2 separate regions of the Homo sapiens genome follow, and region 1 is linked to region 2. A link means that fine-mapping ties the variant in region 2 to the expression of a gene that starts in the linked region. Tissue or cell type: whole blood. Region 2 holds a variant in brackets; the other region holds the start of a gene. All regions are shown on one strand. Distances are from middle to middle.

What was found. PIP is the estimated chance that this variant, and not a neighbour inherited with it, causes the effect.
Region 1: it holds the start of MPND, and the variant in region 2 is fine-mapped to the expression of MPND in whole blood (INTERVAL, PIP above 0.99).

What each region holds. Positions count from the first base shown.
Region 1 is chr19:4,340,425-4,345,972 of GRCh38, forward strand. It overlaps MPND (MPN domain containing), which reads left to right and starts at 3,138. Exons shown (of 13, transcript NM_001300862.2): 1 at 3,138-3,176; 2 at 3,284-3,570; 3 at 5,321-5,548. The coding sequence starts at 3,170. RefSeq lists enhancers at 2,050-2,169, 2,190-2,921 and a silencer at 2,990-3,279.
Region 2 is chr19:4,366,741-4,372,808 of GRCh38, forward strand. SH3GL1 (SH3 domain containing GRB2 like 1, endophilin A2) reads right to left here. Exons shown (of 10, transcript NM_003025.4): 2 at 186-254. Among named protein-coding and RNA genes, the nearest start is that of MPND, 26 kb to the left of the region's middle. RefSeq lists enhancers at 1-103, 2,252-3,201, 2,560-2,749, 3,202-4,149, 5,694-6,068. The variant C/G (reference allele first, on the strand shown) is at 3,361.

The sequences.
Region 1 (5,548 bases), 27 kb before region 2:
GCGTCTATCTTTAATCTTCAAATCCCTTTGCCACGTATCCTAACGTATTCACAGATTCTGGGAATTAGGGCGTGGATATCTTTAAGAGACCATTATTCTGCCTACCACAGCCTGTTTAATATGGTGGACAATTGATTAATTTTGAATACTGAATCAGTCTTGGGTCCCTGGAGTAAACCCCACTTGTCATGGTGTATAATTCACTTTATATATTGTTAAATTCTACTTTGTAATATTTTGTTAAGGATTTTTGCACGTCTTCATGAGGGATATGGGGTGTAGCTTGCTTTCTTTGTACCGTCTTTATCTGGTTTTGGTATCAGGGTCATAGTTCCATAAAATGAACAGGGAAGTGTCCCCTTCAATTTTCTGGAAGAGATGATGTGAAATTGGTGTTAATTCTTCTTTGAACCTTTGGCAGAATTCCTTAGTGAAACCATCTGGGTCTGGAGATTGCTTTTTTGGGAGTTTTTAAATTACAAATTCAATTTCCTTAGTAGTTACCAGGGCTAGACTTTGTATACATAGCAGAACAGGTGTTCTAGAAATCACAGAAAGGCCGTGGGACTGTGGCAATGTGTTCATCCACTGAACTGTCTGATAAAGTTGATAGTATCAGCTATACTAAGTAAGGTCAGAGAGTTGATTTTTGTTTCGTTTTTTTGTTTGTTTGTTTTTTCAGACAGGGTTTTGCTCCTTTTGCCCAGGCTGGAGTGCAGTGGCATGATTTCGGCTCACTGCAACCTCCGCCTCCCGGGTTCAAGCGATTTTCCTGCCTCAGCCTCTGGAGTAGCTGGGATTACAGGTGCCTGCCACCACCCCCGGCTAATTTTTTTGTTTTTATTAGAGATGGGGTTTCACCATGTTGGTCAGGCTGGTCTTCAGCTTCTGACCTCAAGTGATCCCAAAGTGCTGGGATTACAGGCGTGAGCCACTGTGCCCAGCCAGGGTGGTTAGTTTTTATTGTATTTGTCTAAGGCAATGTGGAGCGACAGAAGGATTTACAGCATGAGAGGAGGGCAGGGTGCGGTGGCTCACGCCTGTAATCCAAACACTTTGGGAGCCCAAGTGGGAAGATTGCTTAAGGCCAGGACTTGGAGACCAGCATGGGCAACATAGTGAGATCCCCTTCTTTTACAAGAAAATTAAAAATTAGCCAGGCATGCTGGTCACGCCTGTTGTCTCAGCTACTCTGGAGGCTGAGGCAAGAGGATCATTTGAGTCCAGGAGGCCAAGGCTGCAGTGAGCCATGATTACACCAATGCACTCCAGCCTGGGAGATAGAGCAAGGCCCTGTCTCGAAAAGAAAAGAAAATAGGCTGGGCGCAGTGGCTCACACCTGTAATCCCAGCACTTTGGGAGGCTGAGGCAGGTGGATCACCTGAGGTTGGGAGTTCGAGACCAGCCTGGCAAACATGGTGAAACCCCTTCTCTACTAAAAATACAAAAATTAGCTGGGTGTGGTGATGTGCATCTGCAGTCCCAGCTAATTGGGAGGCTGAGGCAGGAGAATCGCTTGAACCTGGTAGGCAGAGGTTGTAGCGAGCCAAGATCTTGCCACTACACTCCGGCCTGGGTGACAGAGCGAGACTCCGTCTCAAAAAAAAAAAAAAAAAAAAAAAAAAAAAAAGAAAAAAGAAAAGAAAAGAAAACAAAATAATAATATGGGAGGGAGGTGGTAATAGGTGCATTTTAGAAAGAGCCCTCTGGGGCAATGGTGGAAGACCGACAGGGTGGGGCATGAGTTTGGAGGCCTGAGACTCACTGCGATGGCCAGGATTTGGGTGCAAGAGGCTGGAGGTGTGGCTCAGGGTTTTGGAAGGCAGGGGACGGAAAAAAAGCCAAAGAGAAAGTGCGTAAGGAGTTGGGGAAATAAACTGAGGCCGGTTTGGGCTATGCTGAGTCTGCAGGCCTTGGGGATGCCCGTTGTTGGCTGGACAGTCAGGGTGGGGCCCCTAAAGGGTGCCTGGGCTGGACAACAATAGTTCACATGTACCCAGCTCTTGCTCTATGTCAAGTCTTCTTCCTGAGAACATTCCCGAGCACCCTGGAGAGCCTCCCCCGCACCCCTACTGTCCAGTTCCCACTTCCCGACTGCGGTCTGGGCAAAGCCACCCGCACTTGAGCCCATCCCACGGCGTCCCGGAGCTTTAGGAAGTCCCCATCCCGGACTTTCAACCCTGCCAGGGACTGAGGGAAATCCCAGAGCCTGGGCTCCGGGACGAAGGTCCCAGGACAGGGTCGGGGATGTAGTTGCAGAAACAGGGTAGGGGACAAAGGCCGGGGCTGCACTGATCAGGCGCGCAACGAGCCCGGCCCTGCCTCCTGCTCCGCCCAAGGGTATGGAGGGCCGGACTCGGCTGGCCTTATACCCGGAGCTGATTGGCTGGTGAGTCCAGTCCCTGCCTCTGATGGTTTGCGCTCATAACTAAGGGTTTCTACTGATTGGTTTACATGGACGTCTGCCCATTGGTCAAATCCGAGTTGGTGTAATCAGATAGTTGACACGGATTGGTTGGTGCGGGAATCCAGTAGCTTGCTATCGATTGGTTGAGGGTGAAATAAATGGGACTCTTATCATTGGCTGGCGGGCTCCGCAACGGTCCAATCATGGAATCAGTCGAGGGCCGCCCGGGAGGGTGGGAGTTAATTCTTTAGCGACTGAGGCCGGCTTGGGCTCTTTGGCTCCACCTGTGTCTGCGCGAGGCTGTTCCCTATTGGAGTCCGCATTGTTCCCCTGGACCTGAGTTTCTCCCCTGGTCCTAAAGGCCGAGGCCTCTGAGTTCCTCAAGTGCGGTGACCGCAGGTCTCACCTTCTCCTCTCCTTGCAGCAGGCTGAGCCACTCGCGCACCCGCCCCAGGCTTCCACCTTGCAACCTCTATCCCTGGACAGCGAGGCCTCAGTTTCCCCATTCGCACCAATGAGCTCCCGGTCAACACCCCGTCACGCCTCAGTTTCCCGAATGTTCCCAGAGGGCTGAGTTCCCGATCTCTCTCCCGCGTGGGCATCCCCGAGGCCTCAGTTTCTCCGCCCACCCCAGCGCGCCGAGCCCTTCCCCCGACCCCGGCGACGGCCAATGGTTGGGGCGCCCCTCCCCTCCCCGGGGCGGGGCCGCGTGACGTGCCGGGAAGCCGGAGTCTAGAGCTCCGGGCGCGGGGAGGCGCGGCCATGGCAGGTACGGCGGGCCCAGCGGGGCGGAGGCGCGGGGCGCGGGGCTGCAGGGGCGCGGGGCTGCAGAGCCGTGGGGCGAGCGGCCTCCCTGCAGCCTCTCGCTGTCCGCAGCTCCGGAGCCGCTGTCCCCGGCGGGCGGTGCGGGCGAGGAGGCGCCGGAGGAGGACGAGGACGAAGCGGAGGCCGAGGACCCTGAGCGGCCGAATGCGGGAGCGGGCGGTGGACGCAGTGGCGGCGGCGGCAGTAGCGTCAGCGGAGGAGGCGGCGGCGGCGGGGCCGGGGCGGGGGGCTGCGGCGGGCCCGGGGGCGCGCTCACCAGGCGCGCGGTCACACTGCGGGTGCTCCTCAAAGACGCGCTGCTGGAGCCTGGCGCCGGGGTGCTGTCCATCTACTACCTGGTGAGCACCCCGCCTCCCTCGTCCCATCGCGGCTCGGGCAGGAAGGGGAAACTGAGGCCTGGAGTTCCCTTGCTGCAGGACAAGCTTCAGTGTAGGGAGGGGACACTGAGGCCCGGAGCTCCCTTGCTGAGAGACGAGCCCCGGTGTGGCGAGGGGAAACTGAGGCCCGGGGCTCCGTTGACTGCAGGAAGAGCTCCAGTGTGAGGAGGGGAAACTGAGGCTCGGAGCTCTCTTGGCTGCAGGAAGAGCCCCGACATGAAGAGGGGAGACTGAGGCCCGGAGCTCCCTTGGCGGCAGGAAGAGCCCCGGTGTGAGGAAGGGAGACTGAGGCCTGGAGAGCTCCCTTGCTTTAGGACAAGCCCCAGTGTGGGGAGGGGAAACTGAGGCCCAGAGCTCCTTTCCTGCAGGAGGAGCTCCCGTGGAGGGGACACTGAGGCCCGGAGCTCTTTTTACGGGACAAGCCCCATGTGGAGAGAGGAATCTGAGGCACAGATGGGTCCTTCTGGTGGGGAGGACGTAGATTACCAAACACCCCATCCCACAAAGGAGAAGCTGAGGCTCAGAGAGGAGCCACCACCCGCGCAGGGTCAGATGGGCAACACCCCGGCCTTCCTGTGGTTTCCCAGCCGTGAAATGGAATATTTCCCCACCATGGGAAAATTAGGGGATGGTTAAATGAATAAAGCCCTCAGCAGGCGCCTGCCACATGGTAAGCACTTTATCTGTGGTAGGTATTAGTACTTTTTTTTTTTTTTTTTTTTTGAGACAGAGTCTCGCTTTTTTGCCCAGGCTGGAATGCAGTTGCTCGATCTCGGCTCACTGCAACCTCTGCCTCCCGGTTCAAGCGATTTTCTGCCTCAGCCTCCCGAGTAGCTGGGACTACAGGTATGCGCCACCACGCCTGGCTAATTTTTTTTTTTTGCAGTTTTAGTAGAGACGGGGTTTCACTATATTGGCCAGGCTGGTCTTGAACTCCTGACCTCGTGGTCCGCCTGCCTCAGCTCCCAAAGTGCTGGGATTATAGGCGTGAGCCACCATGCCCGGCCTTTTTTTTTTTTTTTTTTTTTTTTTGAGACAGAGTCTCGCGCTGTTGCCCAGGCTGGAATGCAGTAGCATGATCTCGGCTCACTGCAACCTCTGCCTCCCGGTTCAAGCAATTCTCCTGCCTTAGCCTCTTGAGTAGCTGGGATTACAGGCACCCGCCACCACGCCTGGCTAATTTTTATATTTTTAGTAGAGATGGGGTTTCACCATGTTGGCCAGGCTGGTCTCAAACTCCTGACCTCAGGTGATCCGCCCGCCTCAGCCTCCCAAAGTGCTGGGATTACAGGCGTGAACCACTGCACCCAGCCCTGTATTATTACTATTACTGTTGTCATTATTGTTTGATTTGTGAATGGTAGCACATTATTCCCCTTCTGAATGGGAGTTTCTGAATGGAGCAACTGCTGAGTGTTGCATCCTGGAGACACAGCAGTGATCAAGACAGACAGACCCTATCCCCGATCTTAGGGGTTTCTTGGTCATGGTGGGCGGGGTGCAGATATCTGCCAGGCAGCTTGGTGCAGGCTGATCAGGTTTGTGGGTGTGGACTCCCAGGCACTGAGGAGGCCCTGCAGCCGGCCTGAGAGGTGTTCCTGGAAGCCCTGTAAAGACATGCCTGAGGGAGCGTAGGTCTGGGGAGGACCCCCCGGGAGAGAGGGCATGGTGGGTGTTGGTCCTGGGCCCAGCCAGCTGACTGTCACTGCAGGGGAAGAAGTTCCTGGGCGACCTGCAGCCAGACGGAAGGATCATGTGGCAGGAGACCGGGCAGACCTTCAACTCACCCAGCGCCTGGGCCACCCACTGCAAGAAGCTGGTGAACCCTGCCAAGAAGTCGGGCTGTGGCTGGGCCTCTGTCAAGTACAAAGGCCAGAAACTGGACAAGTACAAGGCCACCTGGCTCCGGCTGCACCAGCTGCACACGCCTGCCACGGCT
Region 2 (6,068 bases):
GGGGAGAGAGCTGGTGCCCGTCAAGTCCAGCTGACGAGGCCCCCACACCACCCCATCTCTCCACACCTGCCGGGCCCCATCACTCCAGACCCAGGCCCATCAAGGTTGGCCGCCTCCACTATGCCCGGCAGAGGTCAGGCCCCAGCAGTGCCACCACCACACAGAGCACGCAGTTTCTTCCTCACCTTCTCCATCTCTTTGAAGTCATCATCCAGCTTGGTCCCCTCGGCCCCTCCGACCTTCTCACTGACCAGCTAGAGGACAGAAGAGGGGAAACGCTGTGAGCCCAGGGGTAGGAGGAAGAAGAGGACAGGAGGCCCTGAGCCGCCTTCCAGCCACATCGCATCCACAGCTGGAGGCAGGAGGCCAAGTGATCAGGACACACACCTCAGGCACTGCCGTGGGCACCCCAGGGCCACACGCTGCCTGCAGAGCAGGGTGGGCCTGCAGGGGGAGGGGGAGGGTGGGGGTGGCCTGCCCACCTGTGTGTGTCCCGACTGCCACTCACATACCCACTGGGGACCCTGCCACAGTAGGCCCCATCTGGGCCACGGTGGAGTCCAGAGCCTCAGCCTGAGAACACATGGCTCAGAAGACACTGCTTCCAGAAGCGCCTACACAAACATCCCCACAGATAGCAATGTGGGGATCTGCCCCCATCCTTGAGTATGTGGGGTCTACTTAAAAAAAAAAATCCTGCCAGCTTGGCTGGGAGAGGCAGCAGGAGCTGACAGTTACGAGAAGAGGTGCAGGCAGCCGGGCAGGGAGGCCGCCATTCTCCTGTGCTCTGGTGCCCGTGTCTGCAGGATGGGACAGCCCAGCCCTTGCCCCATGTGGACACTGAGTTTCACAAGGCAGTCAACACAGGCCTGGCACACCTTGGTCCTCACGGCTCTCAGCTACGGTGAAAGCGATGACAATGACAGGCACTTACAGCGTCTTTCCTCGTGTGGTGGGAAGGCAGAAGCAAGCACTGAATTCCCAAACCACTCCCTCTGACAGCGCCTGGGATGCGAAAAACAGCCCTGAAATGTCCCATGGAACATGGCGGGAACCACTGAACCCCAGCACCGCTGTCTGAGCACAGGCGTTGCTTTCTTCACCCCACGTATCCCATGTGTGCCTGGCGCCAAGGGATGCCGCACAGAGTGAGGATGGACAGTGTGAGGCCCTTCCCAGCACACAGCGCTTCATGAAGAGCCGAGTGGCTGCCAGGCCCTGCCACAAATGGAGGCTCCCAGAGGGAGGCCGCCTGAGGTCACAAGCTTGGCCCTGCCCTCTGGGGGCCAAGTGTCACAGGGTGTGCCATCTCTGAAGTCATCGGCAAATTTAACATCCCGGGTCTGATCACTTGTGTGAAGACGTGCACACACGGCCTGGGCAGGAGAGTGAGGTGTTGCGTGCCGTGGGCCATGGCCTGTGCCCCTGGTGCTCCCCAGGTCTGATTGGTGCTTGCCTGCCCCGAGCTGTCACAAGACGTGGCCAAGGGATGCCATGAGGGTCCGTGTGGTGCCACACTGCGTTGGCTGTGTGGGGCTGGGGGGTGTCCAGCAGGGCAGTCAGGAGTTTAGGACCCAGCCTGGGAGGAAGTGACCCAAGAGCAGGAAGTGCGGGGGCAGGAGAAGCTTGAGCCTGGGGCTCTGCCCACGCCAGGCACCTGGTGTACCCTCTAGCCCATGCCTGGAGGTCACAGCCCAAGGCACCATGAGTGCAAATGCCCCCAACCCCAAGTTCTGCAAAAGGTAGCCTGCCCGGAGTACACGGCTGGTCTTGTGTCCTGGCAACCTGCCCAAAAAGACACCAGCCCCTTTGCCAAGGAATTCCTGGCCCTCCTCCAAGGCTTGGCTCTGGAAGCCCCCACACCACGGGACTGTCCTCACCCACGCATCGGGACCCTTTCTGTCCACCTGCCTTCATGTGCGGGGTGTGCCGGGCATTCAGTGAGCACAGGCCCCATGCCTCTGACCCCTGTCCCTTTCCTGCCTGTGGGTTGGTGGCTCTCAACTCAGCCACACAGCACCTTGGAAGCTTCTTAAAAATCCCCTCGTTGGCCGGGCGCGGTGACTCATGCCTGTAATCCCAGCACTTTGGGAGGCTGAGGCAGGCGGATCATGAGGTCAGGAGATCGAGACCATCCTGGCTAACACAGTGAAACCCCGTCTCTACTAAAAATACAAAAAAATTAGCCGGGCCTGATGGCGGGTGCCTGTAGTCCCAGCTACTCGGGAGGCTGAGGTAGGAGAATGGTGTGAACCCGGGAGGTGGAGCTTGCAGTCAGCAGAGATCCAGCCACTGCACTCCAGCCTAGGCGACAGAGCAAGACTCCATCTCAAAAGAAAGAAGAAAGAAAAAAAAAATCACCTCGTCACACCCACCGCGGGAGGGCTGACTCTGGCACAGGTGAGAAGCAGGAACTGTCCCTTGCGGGGCAGGAGAGTGGGGCTGCCCTCCATTTCTGCTGAAGGCATTAGGAGGAAGGAGCCCCCCCTCCCTAGGTGTTTTTGGGGCGTTCCACTCTATTTCCTGGGACAGTTTCACTTCTTTTGATTGTGGCGAGAGAGGGCGTGCTCAGAGCCAGCGGCTGCCGGAGAGGGAAATGAGTGGCTGATGTGAGACTGGACTCTTCTGGGAAGCCGGGAGGAGAACTGAAGCCAGCGGGCTGCGAAACCACACCTTCTGGGCGGAGGCCACCCCGGCCCCACGACCTGCCCAGGCAGGACCCAGTGTGCAGGCTGGCAGGAGTGGCTCCGTCAGGGCCCTTCCCCAGCCCCCTGCCTCTCACAGGGCAGGAGGAGAGGCCCTACCGGCGAGGACCACATCCTGCCTCTGAGGGGAGGGGCTGGGGACCCGCCACGGTACCAAAGACCCACCTGGTGGCCTCTGGCTCTGGCCCTGGCCCCACCTGCCCATCTCACCTGGGAATCCAGGACCCTGCCTTCCTGAGCCCCAGGACGACTTCCTGAACCCCCACAACCGCCTGACTCCTCGCACCCCTGACACCCGGGAGGCTGTGCCCTAACTACCCGGGTCCCTCTGCTCAGCTCCAGCCAAGTCCCTTGTGGTGACTGATGGTCCCCCACGGGCCAGGCACTGGGCAGGGGACACAACCCTGTAAGGCCCCTTCTCTCCAAGGCTTATGGGCTAGAAACCAGCACAGATGGACACAGGGATGAGCAGCCACAAGGGAAACACGGGAAAAGCAAGGCAGCCGGGCCACGTGCAGCGCCGGCCGCAAGCGCGGAAACCAAGCGTGGGCTCCTGCCCGCTGGGGCCCTACTCACTGCGGTCTCCACACCAGCACACTGCTGAGCACGGAGGGGACCGAGAGTCTGCGGCAGAGCTGGGCGCCACGGGGAGGCT[C/G]ACCAGAGGGCGCCTCTGGGCTCGCTGTCAGGAGCGAGTGTTCCTAACCCTGGTGCCATCTGCCAGGCAAGAGCTGCCTGTTGTGGGGCAGCCAGCCCCAATGCCCCCGCATCAGAGACCCTACCGGTGGGGAGGGAGGACTGAGGCCATGGTCCCAGCAGTCCATTCCTGCCGAGGGAGACTCTGCAGGCTGGCTGTAGCCCTGACTAGTGCAGCGGACTCAGCAGTGGCAATGACAGCTCCGCACTCGAGTCCATCCCATACCCACAAGGCTCGCCTCCTGTTCCCACCCCGCATGGCAGGAAACGGAGGAAAATAATGGGGCCACTCAGTAGCCAGGGACCCAACAGGGCTCAGGGGTGAGACCACCCTCCGCTGACTGAACCTGCATCAGGGTGGCAGGGTGGGTGGGGGCCCCCTCCCCACTCTCCCACAGGGCCCCACCTGGACGGGGTCAGAGTACCAGCTGCAAACCCCGAGTGACCAACCGCAGGCCCCACAAGGGCTGCCATCCTGAGAGCAACACCAGCGCCTTCTCTCCCCATGCCTGGAACAAACAGGCCGAGCCCAAGAGGGAACAGTCTCCAAGACTCTGCCCCTGCTTCAGATGCCGGCTGGCCTCCCACAGAGGCTGTGACATGTCCCCGCCTGGAGCAGGGAGAAGTGAGGTTTGGCCAACCCTGCCAGGCGAGGACCAGGGCTGAGAAGTCACTATGGGAGAGGCCCCGGCTCAGTCAGGCCTGGCAGTGGCCTCTGGGAAGGATCCCACTGTTGCCTGCCGGACACTTCCCCAGGGTTTGGCAAGACTGGCTTGTGGTCTTTCAGATCTTTGCCCAGAGATGCCCAGCGGAGACCTGCCCACTCTATGCTCACGCATCCCACCTGCACCCGCCACCTGCATGCCGCATGGATTTTCTGCCTGACCCTGTACTCTGTCACCTGTGAGCCAGGCACCTGGGAAACGAGCAAGCTGGACACGAAGATGGGGTTTTGCCCCAGAGCATGGGACTCTTGTCCCCCTGGGAGAAGGGGGCTATTCCTTTGAAGCCTGGCATTCATTAGAGTTTAGACCTTTGGCTCTCTTTGGAGGGGAGCAAGGGATGTGACACACAGAACAGAGAATACAAGGTGGAAAAATACAGAAATGAACTGTGAAGACACTGTGGACTGAGAGTCAGGACAGGGCTACCGTAGGCAGGAGAATCCCAGGTTTTACCCAGAGGGGTGTGGGCAGCTGCCCTGTGCCCGGCAGGCACAGCTGTGGTGGCCACTTGGCAGGAGCAGGAGGAAAATTCCGAATCCTGCCGAGTGGAGCTGGCTGCTGCCGATGGGCGGCCTTGGGATTTAAACATCTCAGCGGGGAAACCTGATCCACACAGCACGGAACACAAATGCCCGTCTCGGGCTTGGTGCCCCAGCAGACTATCTGCTCTGATGAATTCACAGGGTTTTGTTTTTTTTTCTCTTTTAAAGAAGAAAGCCAGCGTGGGGGAGGGCAAGGGAGGGCTGCTGTGGCCCAGCCTGCAGGGATGCGCCACATTTGCCCGCAGAGGGGTCGGCCCCAGGGTCCTCAGGTCTCACTGGCAGTCATGCTGTGGTGCTTGGTAATTTCCAGGTTCACAGCAGAGTTCACGGGTCCTCCCTCGGCTGGGGAGCGGGTCTCTGGCTGGTGTCTGCCTGCCCGTCGGCATCGGTGGTGCTGTGGTGCTGCACGCTGTGCTACAGAGCCATCTCCGCGTCCCTCCCTGCAGTCCTCCTCAGCGGAATCTGTGAGCGCACAGACCACAGGGGCCTCGCCCAGTGCCAGGCACAGAGCGGAGAAATGGCAGGTGGGCACGGCTGGTCAACCGCAGCGAATACCTGTGACAAGGCCTCATCTTTTTTTTTCTTTTTAAAGAGGCAGGGGTCTCACTATGTTGCCCAGGCTGGTCTCAAACTCGGCCTCAAGCAATCCTACCTCAGCCTTCCAAGTGCCAAAACTACAGGCATGACACAGTGTGCCTGGCCAAGGCCATACATTTACAGGACTAGGGGACAACAGCCCCAGGACAAAGCATGGGTTGGGGAGCTGGGGACCATAGGAGGGGGTCCAGGCCCAGCCACCTGCAGGACCAGGGACAGGGCAGGCAGGACACACGGAACAAGGGCCACTATTCACAGTCCCATGTGCCAGCCCCCATGCTAGGCACTCTGTGCCCGGCCCCCAACGTCACAGAGGAGGAAGCTGAAGGGGACGTGGAGGAGGCGAGTGCTCAGCCCCTCCTCACAGTGGGCGCAGTTCTAACACTGCAGCTGTGTTCAAGGCCTGGTCAGCCATGGAAAGGGGCAAAGCCAGGGTAAGGCCTGCAGAAGCAGCAGAGTCCTTATCAGACCTCTGTGCAAAACAGCTGGAATACAGGGTCGGGGTGGAGGCCCCAGGGAGGGACGTAAGGATCCCTGTGGTGTAGAAAAAGCCCTGACGTGGGAAGAGGGCAGGGGCAAAGGATGTAGGGATGTATCATATCCGTGTGTCTCTGAACCCCTTTCCATCTGCAACGCCCTTCCCTGCTGGCCCAACACCTGGGAGCCACTGCCCAACACACATGGCCACCTCGAGTCCATCACAGCTTCTTTCCCATGAGTCAAAAAGTCGAAGACGCGCACAGCCTGGAGGCGGCCTGCTGCCCAGCGACACAGGAAGCCACTGGCCTTCGTGTCCCCTTTTCCAT